Linked DNA regions of Homo sapiens: region 2 is linked to region 1. Evidence: fine-mapped expression QTL. A gene starts in region 1. The other region holds a variant in brackets. All regions are shown on one strand. Distances are from middle to middle.

Region 1 (8,324 bases):
CAGCCTGGGCAACAGAGCAAGACTCTGTCTCAAAAAAAAAAAAAAAAAAAAAAAAAGAAAAGAAAAGAAAAAAATAAGAAGTAAATTGTAATAGAAAGAAAAGCCCATTTTCTGGGGAGAAATTCAAGCCGGCTGCAGAAATTTGCATTACGTAGCAAGGAGCCTAATGTTAATCCCCAAGACCATGGAGGAAATGTCTCCAGGCCATGTCAGAGAACTTCCTGGCAGCCCCTTCCATCACAGGTCCAGAGGTCCAGGAGGAAAAAGTGGTTTTGTGGGCCAGGCCCTGGGTTCCTGTGCTGTGTGCATCCTAGGGAGTTGGTGTTCTGTGTCCCAGCTGCTCCAGCCATGGCTGAAAGGCACCAACACAGAGCTCAGGCTGTGGTTTCAGAGGGTGGAAGCCCCAAGCCTTGGCAGCTTCCATGTGGTGTTGAGCCTGTGGGTGCACAGAAGTCAAGAATTCAGGTTTGGGAACCTCTGCCTAGATTTCAGAAGATGTTTGGAAATGCCTGGATGCCCAGGCAAAAGTTTGCTGCAGGGGCAGGGCCCTCATGGAGAACCTCTGCTAGGGTGGTGCAGAAGGGAAATGTGGGGTTCAGAGCCCCCACACAGAGTCCCTACTGGGGTACTGCCTAGTGGAGCTGTGAGAAGAGGGCCACCATCCTCCAGACTCTGAAATGGTAGATCCACTGACAGCTTGCACTGTGTGCCTGGAAAAGCCACAGATACTCACCACCAGCCCGTGAAAGCAGCCAGGAGGAAGCCTGTACCCTGCAAAGCCACAGGAGTGGAGCTGCCCAAGATCATGGGAACCCATCTCTTGCATCAGCGTGACCTGGATGTGAGACCCGGAGTCAAAGGAGATCATTTTGGAGCTTTAAAATTTGACTGCCCCACTGGATTTCAGACTTGCATGGGCCCTGTAACCCCTTTGTTTTGGCCAATTTCCCCCATTTGGAACGGCTGTATTTACCCAATACCTGCATCCCCACTGTATCTAGGAAGTAACTAGCTTGCTTTTGATTTTACAGGCTCATAGGCAGAAGGGACTTGCCTTGTCTCAGACAAGACTTTGGACTGTGGAATTTTGGGTTAATTCTGAAATTAGCTAAGACTTTGGGGGACTGTTGGGAAGGCATGATTGGTTTTGAAATGTGAGGACGTGAGATTTGGAGGGGCCGGGGCAAAATGATATGGTTTGGCTGTGTCCCCACCAAAATCTGAACTTGATTTGTATCTCCCAGAATTCCCACGTGTTGTGAGTGGGACCCAAGAGGAGGTCATTGAGTCATGGGGGCCAGTCTTTCCTACGCTATTCTTATAATAGTGAATAAGTCTCACGAGATCTGAAGGGTTTATCAGGGGTTTCCGCTTTTGTTTCTTCCTCACTTTCTCTTGCCACTGCCATGTAAGAAGTGTCTTTCACCTCCCGCCATGATTCCAAGGCCTCCTCAGCCATGTGGAACTGTAAGTCCAATTAAACCTCTTTTTGTTCTCAGTTTCGGGTATGTCTTTATCAGCAGTGTGAAAACGGACTAATACATATATCCATTAAATATATATCTATACTTAACCACTTCTCTCCACCTCCACTGCTCCACTCTAAGCCACCACCATCACTTGCTTGGACTACTGCAGTAGTGTTCTCCCTGATCGCCTGGCTTCTACTATCATTCCCTGCCCATAGCAGTCAGGGACCATGTTAAATCTAACACAGACCATGTCCCTCCTCTGCTCAAAACCCTCCCATGGCTCCTCATTCTTCTTAGAGTAAAAGCAAAATCTTTCCTCTGGTCCTTAAGCCCCTAGGTCACCTGGCTTTCTGGCTTTGCCAATAATCTCTGATCTATTGTGTTTTTTTTTTTGTTTTTGTTTTTTTTTTGTTTGACAGAGTCTTGCTCTGTCACCCAGGCTGGAGTGCAGTGGTGCAATCTCAGCTCATTGCAACCTCTGCCTCCTGGGTTCAAGTGATTCTCCTGTCTCAGCCTCCCAAGTAACTGGGATTACAGGTGTACACCACCATGCCTGGCTAATTTTTTTTTTTTTTTTTTTTTGTATTTTTAGTAGAGACCGGGTTTCACCATGTTGGCTAGGCTGGTCTCGAACTCCTGACCTCAAGTGATCTACCTGCCTCGGCCTCCCAAAGTGCTGGGATTATAGGCGTGAGCCACTGCGCCCAGCCAGCTGACCTATTTTCCTACTATTCTTCCCATTGCTCACTTGGCTCCACTGGTCTCCTCGTTGTTCTTCAAACATGCCCAGGATGGCCCCATTTCAGGGCTTTTGCACTTGCTGTTCCCTCTGCCTGGGACCTCCTTCTCCCAGATAACCACATGGCTCCCTCCCTCATTCCTCCAGGTCTGTCCTCAGAGAGGCCTTCCCTGACCACCTTGTCTAAAAGCTGCACTTCCAGCTTGGGCAAGATAGCAAGACCCCCCCGATCTCTACAAAAAATTAAAAAAAATTAGCCGGGTGTGGTGGTACACACCTGTAGTCCCAACTACTTGGGAGGCTGAGGTGGGAGGCTCGGTTGAACCCAGGAGTTCAGGTTACAATGAGCTGTGATTGTGCCACTGCACCCCAACCTGGGTGACAAAAAAACACAAAAAACAAAAAACAAAAACAAAAAAACTGCACTCCCAGGCTTTCTGCCCCATTGCCTTAGCGTACAGTCCTAGCATGAATCACTTCCAGAACTCATTTGTGTTGTCTTGATTCCTGGCTGCACCTGCTTACCTGGTTCAGGTACAGTGCCTGGCACACAGTAGGCGCTTAGTGAGAGGCTGTACAATGGAGAGCTGACCCTGGTCTGTCCTGTTCTTCCTGCTTTCAGGCCAGGACTTAATAGTGATTGGGAGGTGGCGGGTGGTGGAGAAGAGGCGGCAGGAACAGGAAGGAAGGGTTCAAGGAGGTGGGCAGGGCAAAAACAACAGCAATTCCTATTTCTTGAGAGCTTTCTGTTGTGCCGTGCACTTTACATATCATGATGGTCTTTATTTTCCGGATGAGGAAACGGAGGCTTAGAGAAGTGAAATGATTTCTCTAAGCTCACACAGTGTTCAGTGGCCTAGTGCGACTCGAACTCAAGTCTGCCTAATTCCAGAACTTCCTCTCTTCACCTGGAGCCAGGGGAAGCTTGCGAGGCGCCCTGTCCGTATGGAACAGTGCTGTACGCAAATGTCCTGGATTCAGCTGTTTTTTCTGCCACTCACACATTTTTCAGGAATTAGAGCTATTTTTCTAATTTAACTGGGCATTAAATTTGCTAAACCTGGCAACCCAGGTTTAGCAAATATTTTTATTATTTGTAGAGATGGTGGTCTCCCTCTGCTGCCCAGGCTGGTCTTGAACTACTAGGCTCAGGCAATCCTCCTGCCTCGTCCTGGGGGGAGTTCGGACTTAAGCCTAGGACTTCAGCGAATGGCCCGCCCAGGACCCCCAAATGCTTTTGCAGGCTAATCCACGACCTGGGCCAGTCCTTACCTTTGGAATCGCAATGAGCTTCCCGGGCTCCAATCCGCTTTTCTGGGCTAGGGAACTGGGGAGTCGCGAGCCAGGAGCGGACCCTTTAAGAGTGATTTCGAGGGCGGGCTCACGGGGGCGTGCCGGTTCGGGGCCTGCCAATCGGGAGGTGGGAAGAACGCGGGGGCGGGCCCGGCGCGAGCAGGCTGGGAAGGGTTAAAGGGGCGCGCCCGTGGGTCGCGGACTGTCCGGTTGCTCCCGCCTCCTTCCGTCGGATCCGCGCTCTCCCGCGGCTGCGCCGGCCCGGCCGCCCAGGAGACAAAGCGCTGCCGCCGCCGTCGCCGCCACCGGGCCAGTCCCGAACCATGGCCGGGCCACCCCGCAACCTCGCGCCTCCCGTCCCGTCGCCGCCCTAGGCCTGCGCTGCGAGGTAAGGCGGGCCTGGCGGGGGGACATGCACGAGGACATGGGACCCGGGTCGGGCCGCCCTGGGCCTCGGGGTCCCCCGGCCACCTGGAGAGCGCGTTGCGGGGATCTTCCCCGCTGGGACTCCGCACCAGTGGTGACTTCTCCAGCTGCCGAGGCGAACTTGGCCAATGACCACCCTCCCCTCTCTCAGCCCATAGGGACGTCTGCCGCTGGTGGGGACTGCGGATAAGCCCCCCATTCTGCCGCTGATCACCCATCTGGGGCTCTGGCTGTCCTTTAAGGAACTTAAGAGAGCTCCCACGCACAACACACAAAGGGACAGAGAGCAGCCGGGAGCAGGGCCACACCTGGAGCAGCAGCCCCTGCCGTGGACAAGGGGGCTGCCTGTGTCTGGACGGCGGTGCTGGCGTGTCTCTGGGGTCCCTGCTGGGGCGGTGACGGCCAGGCTGCTCTTTAGTGTTCTTGGCACACATGTTTTTCAGCCTGTGCCTGCCACACCCTCTTCCCCACGCCCGCTGCTGGGGGACACTGAGGGCAGCTGGATTCAACCCCAGGACCTGCGGTACTGGCTTCTTTTCGTTGATGTGAGTGCCAAAATGCCATGCTTCAGTCTCCCAGGAGACCTGGGTTCCGGGGCCAGCTGTGCCCCTGGAGATCTTGGATGAATTATTTGCCTTTTTGACAGCTCTTTCCCTGAAAGCTCACTACCCACCAAGTATTTTGCAAAATGACTCTTCAGGAGTCAATTCACTCAGCCCTTAGAGGGATGGAAGTTAACGTCACCATTTTGCAGATGAGGCTGAGAAAAAACTCCGACTCACAGCAGCTAATATTTGCAATCCATTTCCCATAGTTTGCCAGTGGGTTTTCCTTCTTTTAGCTCATGAACCCTCGCCACACAGCCCAATTTAACAGATGAGGACACTGAGACTTGGAAAGGTGAAACGACTTGTCCAAGGTCCTCCAGCCTGGACCTGCGGAGGCAGGAACTTTGCCTTGGGAGCAGAGCTGGGCCAGGCTCCCTCCAGCTTCCTGTCTGGCCATGGGCTGTTGAATCAGCAGCAGTGCCCACAGTGGACTCTGAACTTCTTGGAAAACAGTGTGGGGAGATAAGGCAGGGGCCAGGCCTTCGCTCCAGGCAAGGCTGGCGCCTGTGCCCCTGCAGCTTCCTGTCTTCCCAGTTCTGGTGGAGGCAGGGGTCATGGGCAGAGCTGGGTCCTGTGCCTGCTGGTGACCTTGAACCAGTTTGGCCTCTATCTAGGCAGTCGGGGGAGGAGGGTTGCTGAGCAGGAGGGAAGTTGCTATTCCTTTGGCCTTGATGGGGTGGAGAGACCCCAAGATCAGCCCCTTTATTTGGGTGGCTTGCCTGGAGCATGTGATTCTGGGCACAGTTGTATGCCTCTAGCCAACTTATTGAATCTCCCTGTGTCCATTTCCACATCTGTGAATGTGGGGTGAGATCCCTTGTCTTGGGGCTGTTGAAAGGTTTCAGAAGATACTGCAGAATGAATCAAACAGCTGTGTGAGTACCTACTGCATGCCAGGCACTAGAATTCAGACCACAAACGCCCCTGCAGGCAGAAATGACCCAGGTATTAATTTCAGGTGGAGGCACAGGAGAGGGACTGGGGGGCCTCTTGTGCATAGGGTGGCCAGGGACCACCTCTCTGAGGAGGTGACAGCTAGGCTGAGACCAAAGGATGGGGAGCTGGCCTTGTGAAGACCTGCAGGCAGACAGCCGGGACCAAGTCTTGGAGGTGGGGATGTGTCTGGTGTATTTGAGGAACAGAAAGGAGGCCAGGATGGCTGGAGCTGAGTGAACAAGGGGGAAAGAGGTAGGGAAAGGGAACTTGGAAGCCAAGGGAGGCTTGGATTTTTTTTTTTTTTTTTTTGAGACAGAATCTCACTATGTCACCCCCCAAGTTCAAGGGGTCCTTCCATGTTAGCCTCCCAGATAGCTAGGACTAGAGGCTTGTATCACCATGCCCAGCTATTTTTTTTTCTATTTTTTATAGAGATAGGGTCTTGCTATGTTGTCCAGGCTGGTCTCTAACTCAAGCAATCCTACCCCCTCAGCCTCCCAAAGTGCCAGCATTACAGGTGTGAGCCACCGCACCCTGCCTAAGGATTTAATTTTATGCTGAGAGAAGTAGGGAGCCATGGGAGGGTTTAGAGCAGAGGAGGAGTGTGATTGGACTTAATTTTCACAGGATCCATCTGTGGGAAGTGGATTTCAGTGTGGCTCGGAGAAGAGCTTAGGAAGGAGGCTTGGATCTTACCTTGAGGAACATGGACAGGGAGGGGCAAGGAGACTTATGAGGAGGCTACAGCAGCCATCCCAGTGAATGGTGATGGGGCCTAGAATGGGGAGGTGGAGTGGACAGATTAGGCAACTGATTTGGAAGACGCTGGAGAGGGGGATCAACTGGACTTGATGTGCGATCAGATGCGGGGGTGAGAGGGAAACCAAGGGCCATTTGCTGAGATCGGAAGCACAACACAGGGATGTTTGGGGAAAAGCCAAGAAAAATGTGAACTGCAACCGCGCTCAGCAGGCACTGTGTGCCTGGCCCCATGCTCCGCAAAGTCCATATAGTCACTGTATCATTGTCACAACAGCCCTGACTTAGGCACTGTTACGATCCCATTTTACAGATGCAGAAACAGAGGCCCAGAGAGATGAATAGCCTGCCTGGGGTCCCCCAGCCCAGATGCTGCAGAGCTGACATTTGAATCCAGAGAAGAGCGAGCTGAGGCTGGAGCTGAGCAGAGGGCAGGGAGGCAAGTGGTGGCCTGAGAGGTAGGAGCGGAACTGGGCAAGCAGGGCGGGAGGGTCCTGTGAGAACCGGGGCCAGCATCCACATGGGAGTTGATGGGTGGTGGTGTGGGGAATGCGTGAATCCCTGCGGCTTAGAGAGGGACAGCTGTAGCTGAGAGGCAGGGTGGGGATTCAACACCTGGAGACTTTGGGGGCTCTGGCCTTGGCCTCCCACTAGGTCAGGACAAACTGACCTCAGTTTCTTTTTTTATTTTAAGTTCCATGATACATGTGCAGAACATGCAGGCTTGTCACATAGGTATACGTGTGCCATGGTGGCTTGCTGCACCATTGACCCGTTCTCTAAGTTCCCTCCCCTCACCCCCGATCCCCCAACAGGCCCCGATATGTGTTCTGCCCCTCCCTGTGTCCATGTGTCTCATTGTTCAACTCCCACTTATGAGTAAGAACATGCGGTATTTGGTTTTCTGTTCCTGTGTTAGTTTGCTGAGGATGATGGCTTCCAGCTCCATCTATTTCCCCGCAAAGGACATGATCTCATTCCTTTTTATGGCTGGATAGTTTTCCATGGTGTGTATGTACCACATTTCCTTTATTCAGTCTATCATTGATGGGCATTTGGGTTGGTTGATCTCAGTTTCTAAGTCACAACTCATGTTCCGTCTTCTAGGAAGCCTTCCCTGACTGCCTATGTGGCTGACAGGAGGTGGCAAGGACAACCCCCTCCACCCTAGGACAGGTAGTCTGGCAGGGCCTCACTGCGGTCACCTGCTCCCAGGAGAGCCACCACCCTGACCTCATTCCACCAGGCTCTGAGAAAGACACCACCCAGGCAGGGGAATGAACACTGAGTGCCTACTGCGTACCAGGACTTTATATCCTTTGCTTCTTGAAAAATGTAGCTACCATCCTATGCAGGCTGAGGCTCTGCAGTGGGAGATAAGGCAGGCTCTCAAAATGGCCATGGAAAACCCCAAGGGAAGGTGGCCAGGCCAGGGACGCAGATGCCACCTCCCGACAAGTCCTTCCTGGCCAGCGTTGCCCCATCATATACTCCTTGGGGGAAGGTGGATGGGGTCACTGTGGCCGATGGCATGGAGTTAGAGTCCTCTATGCTAAATGGCACGGGTCGACCCCCTGCCCCTCCTTCCTGTAAGTCAGCCTAGCCCTGGGCCTGCATCTTTCCCCAAATTCTTTCTTTTTTTTTGAGACGGAGTCTGGCTCTGTCCCCAGGCTGGAGTGTAGTAGTGCAATCTCGGCTGACTGCAACTTCTGTCTCCTGGGTTCAAGCACTTCTCCTGCCTCAGCCTCCCAAGTACCTGGGATTATAGGCACCCCCCACCATGCCTGGCTATTTTTTTTTTTTTTTTGAGATGGAGTCTTGCTCTGTCGCCCAGGCTGGACTGCAATGGCGCAGTCTTGGCTCACTGCAACCTCCGCCTCTTGGGTTCAAGCGATTCTTCTGCCTCAGTCTCCCAAGTAGCTGGGATTATGGGCGTGCACCACCTCACCTGGCTGTTTTTTAGTAGAGATGGGGTTTTGCCATGTTGGCCAGGCTGGTCTCGAACTCCTGACCTCAGGTGAGAAGGATTGGCCTTGGCCTTCCAAAGTGCTGGGATTACAGGCGTGAGCCACTGTGCCCAGCCCCTGTCTT
Region 2 (8,324 bases), 390 kb before region 1:
AGAATATTTACAATTTAAATACAGATATATTACCCTCCAAAGAAGTTTAATTTATGCCCCACTACCTGTCATGTCTGAGTTTCCTTACACCCTCACCAGTAGAAGTTTCAGGATTTTTTTTTTAGCTTTGCTAATCTGAGAGACGAAAAAGTGGCATTTCACTACCACATTAATTTGCTTCTCTTTTACGAGTGAGCTTGAGCATCTCTGCCTAGATGAAGTCATGCATGTTTCCTCTGCTATGAACTAGCTGCTCATGTCTCTGGCTCACTTTTCTATTGGATTGTTGGTCTTTCTGAAATTGATTTGTAGGTGCTTTATATGTATCCAGGCAATTAACATTTTGTCTATCATATATGGCACAAATACATCCTGCCAGTCATCTTTTTACTACTAAGTAACTGTAAGTAGCTATTTCTGAACTACTGTATATTCTGTGTCATTGATCTCTGTATGCGTGTGCCAGTATGACACTGTTTTCATCACTGTAGCTTTCTAAGTCTTCTTGTTTTTTTTCCCCAAGACCAGGGTCTCGCTGTCACCCAGGCTGGAGTGCAGTAGCACAATCACAACTCGCTGCAGCCTCGACCTCCCAGGCTCAATTGATCCTCCCACCTCAGCCTCCTGAGTAGTTGTGATTACAGGTGCATGCCACCATGCCTGACTGATATGGTTTCACTGCGTCCCTACCCAAATCTCATCTAGAATTGTAACTCCCACAATTCCCACATGTTATGGGAAGAACCTGGTGGGAGGTGACTGAATTATGGGGGCAGGTCTTTACTGCACTGTTCTTTTGATAGTGAATGAGTCTCACGAGATCTGATGGTTTTAAAAACGGGAGTTTCCCTGCACAAGCTCTTTTTCTGCCTGCGGCCATTTATGTAAGACGTGACTTGCTCCTCCTTGCCTTCTGCCGTGATTGTGAGGCCTCCCCAGCTATGTGGAACTATAAGTCCATTAAACTTCTTTTCTTTTTTTTTTTTTTTGAGACACAGTCTAGCTCTGTCACTCAGGCTGCAGTGCAGTGGTGCTATCTTGGCTCACTGCAAACTCCGCCTCCCAGATTCAAGCGATTCTCCTTCCTCAGCCTTCCAAGTAGCTAGGATTACAGACGTGCCACCACGACTGGCTAATTTTTGTATTTTTTAGTAGAGATGGGGTTTCAACATGTTGGCCAGGCTAGTCTCGAACTCCTGACCTCAGGTGATCCACCTGCCTTGGCCTCCCAAAGTGCTGGGATTACAGGCATGAGCCACCGCACCTGGCCTAAACCTCTTTTGTAAATTGCCCAGTCTCAGGTATGTCTTTATCAGCAGCATGAAAACGGACTAAGGCACCAGCTAATTTTTTTTTTTTTTTTTTGTAGAGATAGGGTCTCTTTATGTTGCCCATGCTGGTCTTGAACTCCTGGGCTCAAGCAGTCAGCCCACCTTGGCCTCCCAAAATGCTGAGACTACAGGCATGTGCCACCATGCCCGGCAGCCTCCTAAGTCTTAATAGCTTGTACTAATATTTCTCTTAACCAAGATCTTTCAGCCTGGAAGTGATGAGGTTGCACATGTGCCTTCGAGGGATTCCTCTGAGAACTGCATGGAAACTCAGTTGTAGTGGGGAGGCAGGCCAGAGGCAGAGAGATGAGGAGGGCTCAGTTGGCAGAAAGAGTGTGAAGGTGGAATTGACAGGTAGCTGTGTGGAGATGAGGGCGAGAGGAGTGGAGTGGGTGCTGAGGTTCTTACCATGTGCTATTCCCCAGGATGGGGGAGCCAGGAGCAGCAGTAAACTTGGTTGTGGGGAGGGGAAGGAGAAAATGAGCTGACTTATCCACATTCGCATACATCGATACAATGTGGGCAACGTGCTTCGTCCCTGTTGGTGTGCGTGGTGTGTGTCTCAGTGCAGGACACGCTGGTCCACAGGTTCGTTTATTCTGGTTTGTCTGTGGTCTGTGGTGCTCACCATAATCCTAACCAGCAGCTCTCTCATCCCTGGTGCCCTACTGTTGGTGCACCTGTTCCACCCATGTCCTGCCCTCTCTCCTTATGGAAATCTTCCCTATCAAGATCCAGCCCAAGTCCCATCTTCTGGGAAGTCTTTTGTGACCATAGTAGCCTTCCTTAGCTGCTTTTTTTTTTTTTTTTTTTTTTTTTGAGACGGAGTCTCTCTCTGTTGCCCAAGCTGCAGTGCAGTGGTACCATCTCAGTTCACTGCAACCTCTGCCTCCTGGGTTCAAGCGATTCTCCTGCCTCAAGCTTCCCAAGTAGCTGGGATTACAGGCATGCACTACCATGCCTGGTTAATGTTTGTATTTTTAGTGGAGACAGGGTTTCACCATATTAGCCAGGCTGGTCTCAAACTCCTGGCCTCAAGTGATCCACCCAAGTCAGCCTCCCAAAATGCTGAGATTACAGGTGTGAGCCACCACATTTGGCCTCAGCTGCTTTCACACAGTCCTCAACCAAATACTGCAGACCAAGATCACCTGGATGTGCTGAAACGCTATTGTAATTATGGCTCCTTGTGGCTCAGTCTCTCCAAAGAATGAACTAAAACTTAACTCTCAACCTAGATTTCACCCTGACAGTCTGAGGCTTTCCTCTCTTCCACGTTTCTTTCCATCTGTTTCCTGGTTCTTCATCGCCCCTTGTCTGTGGGCTCACTGGCAGGAATGGGGCCGGCAGAAGCACAGGCATTCTCATGGTGCTGAGACCTTCGGTGGAAGCACCTCAAGCCACTTAACTTCCTCTAAGATATTCAAATTCCTAGCTTTCAACTACTCTGAAACCTTTCATTGTTAGGGCACAACTGATGTGCTTTCAGGCTTTAAAAAACCCTAGTTCCACTTGCTCTCCAACAAAGGTTGTGACTGAGGTCTCCTTCAGGGTCACTGACTGGTGAGATTCTAGATGTTTGGTTGTTTAGTCCCCGTTCTGGGACACTGACTCTGTCTATGGAAGCTCTTTGTTGCTGTTGTTGCAAACAATGATGTTAGGTGAGGAATTTAAAGCCCCATTTTAACAGGAAGACATCTGGCTGGGGGCAGTGGCTCAGCCTATAATCCAACACTTTGAGGCCGAGGCGGGCGGATCATCTGAAGTTGGGAGTTCTAGACCAGCCTGACCAACATGGAGAAACCCCATCTCTACTAAAAATACAAAATTAGCCAGGTGTAGTGGTGCATGCCTGTAATCTCAGCTACTTGGGAGGCTGAGGAAGGAGAATCGCTTTAACCCGAGAGGCGGAGGTTGCGGTGAGCTGAGATAATGCCATTGCACTCCAGCCTGGGCAACAAGAGCAAAACTCCGTCTCAAAAGCAAAACAAAACAAAACACAGTAAGACATCTGCCCTCACAGGTAGGAGGAAAAATATGGTCAGCCCTGAGCCCCAGCTCTGCCCTCCTTGTTTGCATATGTACACACACACACATACACACACACACACACACACACACACACAATCTCTCTCTCTCTCGGACACACAGCTGGCTTGACACTCCACAGGCAGCCAGGGCCACAGGGCAGACACCCCCATCATGGAGCCTGACCCCCTAAGAGGCAGTCGGGGGGGCATCCCGGAGATTATTCTGGAAGCATCAGAAGCTCATGCACTTCTTGAGGGCACAGCACGCTCTCCTTGGTGACATGAGCCTCATCATCTTCCTCCTTTCCTAGGTGAGGAGGCCAGTACCTCACAGAGGTGATCTTAACGATCCATGCCATGGAGTAGAAAGAGCTCTGGGATCTTCTGAATTTAGGTTTGAATTCACTGACAAGCTGTGTGATCTTAAGCAAGTTGCACAATTCCTTTGAACCTCTGTCTCCTCATCTCTAGCAGGGGCAGAATAAAAGGATCTGCCAATTGTTATAGGGTTCAAAATAACTGGCCAGGCGCAGTGGCCATGCCTGTAATCCCAGCACTTTAGGAGGCTGAGGTGGGTCAATCACCTGTCAGGAGTTCAAGACAAGCCTGGCCAACATGGTGAAACCGTCTCTACTAAAATTACAAAAATTAGCCAGGTGTGGTGGTGCGTGCCTGTAGTCCCAGCTACTCAGGAAGCTGAGACTGGAAAATCACTTGAACCCGGGAGGCAGAGGCTGCAGTGAGCTGAGATCGTACCACTGCACTCCAGCCTGCACAACAGAGTGAGACTCTGTCTCAAAAAACAATAATAATAATAATATACAGATAGTTCTTGGCACCTGGTATGTACTAAATACCCAGTAGCTCTTATGATTCTAGCCAGGCGGTGTCTGCTCATTCTGCCTCCCCTGGGGATCAGGTTAGGGAAGTCAAGCCCTTCTCACCCTCGCTTCTCAAAGTGGGTCCCAAAACAAGGAGCATGACCTGCAAGTGTGTTAGGAAGGCAGGCCCACCGCACCACGCTCTGCATTTTAACCTGATC[G/A]CAGGGGCATTCCTTTGCTAGTTGAGTGTGAGAAGCATGGCATCTTATGTGGTCCAGGCTAGTCCTCAGCCCAGATGAGGCCCCACATTCTTGCACTCCAATGTGAGCACAGCCGCCTCCTCTTTAGCGGGTCCCGCTCCTGACTCCAGCCACACACGAACAGCTGGTGTGTGCTGTGGCTTATGGTAAGCCACACATCATCCCATTTAATCCTCAGGTGATTCTGGGAAGCAAGGACTGGTCTACTCATTTTTCAAATGAGAAATCTGGCCGGGTGTGGTGGCGCATGCTTATAATCCCAGCACTTTGGGATGCTGAGGTAGGAGGATTGCTTGAGCTCAGGAGTTTGAGACCAGCCTGGCCAACATGGTGAGACCTCTGTCTCTTAAAAAAAATTTAAATAAATAAATAAATAAAACGAGAGATCTAAGTCTCTAAGATGAAGGAACATTTCCAAAGGTTGCCCAGCTACTCTGTCACAGAGTCAGGATTTAAACCCATTTGAATTTGGGCCATTTGAATCTAGAGCCACAGTCCTGACAAAAATTCTCTCCTTGAGCACGCTCTCGCCAGCCTTCCTCTGAACTCCCATCTCCACTAGACCTCAAACTTGGCATATTAAAACTGCAGACTTTCAGCACAAATGCTTAAGTCCACACCCCCATACTCCCATGAAAAGACTTAAGTTACATGGTGTCCAACATCTCAAGACCACATCTGTGGGATGCCCGTACCTGCCTGAGAAAGCCCAAAGCTGCTGAAAGAAATTACTGTTTGTTCCAGCAACACTAGAAGATGGACCCTGTCCCCCAGCCTCCAAGGGAGGGCAGGAGCCTAACCCTAAGCGCCAGTTAGCAAACCCAGACAGGTGTCACGCCAACCACACTCCTTCCTGCTCTCTCTGGTTCCCCTTCCTGACTCTTGAGCCCCCCTCCCAACCACCACCCCTCCCATCACCTCCGCACAAATCCAAGTGGAGCTCAGTTCCCGCTGGGCCCTGCTCTCTAAAGCAATGGCTTATGACTGATTAAAACCTGTCCCTGCTGGGCACGGTGGCTCACGCCTATAATCCCAGCACTTTGGGAGGTTGAAGCAGGCAGATCACTTGAAATCGGGAGTTCAAGACCAGCCTGGTCAACATGGCAAAACCCTGTCTCTACTAAAAATACAAAAATTAGCCAGGCATGGTGGTGCATGCTTGTAATCCCAGCTACTCGGAAGGCTGAGGTAGGAGAACTGCTTAAACCCAGGAGGTGGAGGTTGCAGTGAGCCAAGATGGCACCAATGCACTCCAGCCTGGGCAACAGAGTGAGACTCTGTCTCAGAAAAATAAATAAAACCTGTCCCTACCACTTTAGTGTCCGCCTTTACCTCTGACAGCTCTTCACCACTGTGTCATCCGTCTAACACTGATAGGACAGAAAATCCCCTGGGCCATTTCTCCACTCAGTCAACTTGATTAAAAGAAACCCTGTCCCAGGTTACTTGCAGGTGTGGGCCCCAGGCCGCTGGAGTCCGGGACTCACCTGTCCCAACGCGCATCCATTTTGGTAAAATGGACGAAGGGGAGAAATCTGTACCTATGTCGCAGCAGGGAGGGCAGCAGAAATACCAACAAGAGGGGTCTCTGAGTGACAGCCTTGGCACGCCCGAGGCATCCCTGGGGAACTCTGAAGCCCTGGGTGGTGACCGACAACCCTGGGGGACTGACAATGGGTACAAGCAGCAGAGATCACTGGAGCCTGTTCTTTCGGTGTCACTCCCAGCTGCCGTCTTGAAGGGGCCCTGCCCAGACAAGTTGCCTGGAAGTGTCTCTTTGCAGCCTCTGTAGGATTGTTGTGGAATGATCTGACGGTATCTGAAATCAGGCCTTGGCGAGCACAGGTCTTGGCATCCAGACACCATCTGGCCTCCCGAAGTGCTGGCATTATGTGTGTGACCCGCGGCGCCCAGCCTGCCCTTTCTTCTTGTCAGGCAGGTTTGGCTGAGACACCTCTTCTGGAAAGAGTCCTCCCCTCAGCCTCCAGCCCCAGCAGTGCTTGCCCCATCACACGCCCAGGCCTCTGGGGCACTAACCGCCATCCCCTACTTGAGATGCAAACCCCCAAAGGCCAGCAGTTGTCCTGTTTTGTTTACTTGCACATTCCCCAAGGCCTGGACTCCTGCTGGGCCCAGAGCTGAGGCTCCCTCGACAGTGGTGGGCAGAATGATCTAGCAGAGGTGGAGGGCCTGGGGGGGACCTGCCTGTCTGCAGGCAGCATTCCTGGGGCCCCCGGGGTCTCTAGCCCTCAAGGCAGAGGATCTGAGGGAGATATGGGGGTACCCACAGCCTGACTCCCATTTTCCTCTCAGCAGCTGCGTTACTGAACAGGCAAGGTTAACCTCAGAGGCCACGAAAGACATTCTTAGGCCCATGAGACAGGCCAGGCCACGACCACTTCCTTTTTTTTGAAGAAAACCTCTCCTCCCGGAGCCTGAGGGAGCACTCAGCTGCTGCGCTCCTGCCAGCTTAGCAGTGGGCTCCTGGCCAGTGTGGCTGTCATTGTGACAGGCATTTGTTTGGGGTTTAACTTCCTTGAGCAACAAGCAGTTTCTCAAGTGTGGTGAAGGGGGACCTGCCTCCCCAGACCCCTGGGCATGTGGGTCTGAGGAGCCCATTCACGGGCCCCTCATGGTGCTGATCCTGGCTGGCCATTCTCAGGGAAGGCAGTTCCCACAGGGTCACCTCTGCAAGGTGGCAGCCGGGGGGGATGGTTCCTGCCCGTCTGGTCTAACCTGAGACGAGTTTTGGCTACCCCACCACGAGTTATGAGACGAGCAGGCTGGGGCCTCACTGCCCCTGGCTCACCTCTGCATGTCGCTGGGTTTCTCAAGGAGCTCAGACTGCAAGTGAGTAAGCATTTCCACTCTCCTCAGAGAAGAGAGATTGTGCTCCAAAGTGTAATGGCGAATGGGCCACCACCTCCCCTTCGCCCAGATATTCTGACTATGGAGCAGGTGGAGGCTGCAGGGGCCTCACATGCCAGCTCCTGGGTAAAGTATGTATGAGCACAGAGCCCCGGGCTACATAGTGAGGGAAGGCAGCCAACTCGGGACTTATCGGACCCGTGGCCTCTGTGCTCCCAGCATGTATGGGGCTGAGATGATGGCCTGGACCTCGAGGAAACACAGGCAGGAGGAGGCATGAAGGCGCTGAAGGGAACCTCTCCACTCGATTCTCTTTGTATGACACAGAAAGTCCACAAAGCCTCCGAGATGTGTTTACTTATTCTTCTGTGTCCCCAAAACCCCTTTCCAAAATAACATTTAAATGATTGTTCTGTGCTGTGTGTTCAAATGGAGATAATCAGATGCCAGTGGCTTTACAATGTGGGTTGCATTCCATTTTCCCAGGCGCCCAGGTCCTGGGTCTCTAGGCCACCGCCCGCCGTGGCCGCCCCTCTGCTCACCAGGGAGGCCAGACAGGAACCCTGCAGCTGCCAGAGCAAGCACGTCCCACAGCCTTGGGAGGCCTCCCAAAATGTGTCCAGATTCCCACAGGCAGAGAGAGAGGGACTGAAAGGCTGAAGTGAAGTGACCGTGCCTGCCCAGCCTGGGACTGAGAGCCTGAAGACCAGCTTTCCAGACTCTGTCCCAGAACCCCCTTGGCCCTCAGCAAATCCCCTCCTCCTGGCCTGAAACAGACTCCAGGCTTCTTGCAGAGACGTCTTCTGTGGAGAACCAGAAAGATTGAGTCCACCCTGACTGTCCCGGGACAGAGCTGCTGAGCAGGGTGCAGGAGCCACAAACACCGGATCTTTCGAGGCACATCAGTGACAGATCTGGGCACAGCTGGACCAGCCAGGACATTGAGCCACTGCAGCCCCAAGGCTCTAAATGCGGTGCTTCAGCTCTAGCTTGGCCACCGTGGCCCGGTGCACC

Evidence for each region. PIP is the estimated chance that this variant, and not a neighbour inherited with it, causes the effect.
Region 2: its variant is fine-mapped to the expression of PHETA1 in whole blood (INTERVAL, PIP 0.92).

What each region holds. Positions count from the first base shown.
Region 1 is chr12:111,364,480-111,372,803 of GRCh38, reverse strand. It overlaps PHETA1 (PH domain containing endocytic trafficking adaptor 1), which reads left to right and starts at 3,709. Exons shown (of 3, transcript NM_144671.6): 1 at 3,709-3,892; 2 at 6,547-6,691. LINC02356 (long intergenic non-protein coding RNA 2356) reads right to left here and starts at 3,543. Exons shown (of 4, transcript NR_187522.1): 1 at 3,484-3,543; 2 at 734-835. RefSeq lists a silencer at 3,539-4,118.
Region 2 is chr12:111,756,425-111,764,748 of GRCh38, reverse strand. ACAD10 (acyl-CoA dehydrogenase family member 10) reads right to left here. Exons shown (of 21, transcript NM_025247.6): 21 at 7,650-8,324. The coding sequence ends at 8,276. Among named protein-coding and RNA genes, the nearest start is that of ALDH2, 6.3 kb to the left of the region's middle. RefSeq lists enhancers at 2,550-3,085, 5,865-6,504, 6,505-7,146, 7,788-8,324. The variant G/A (reference allele first, on the strand shown) is at 4,404.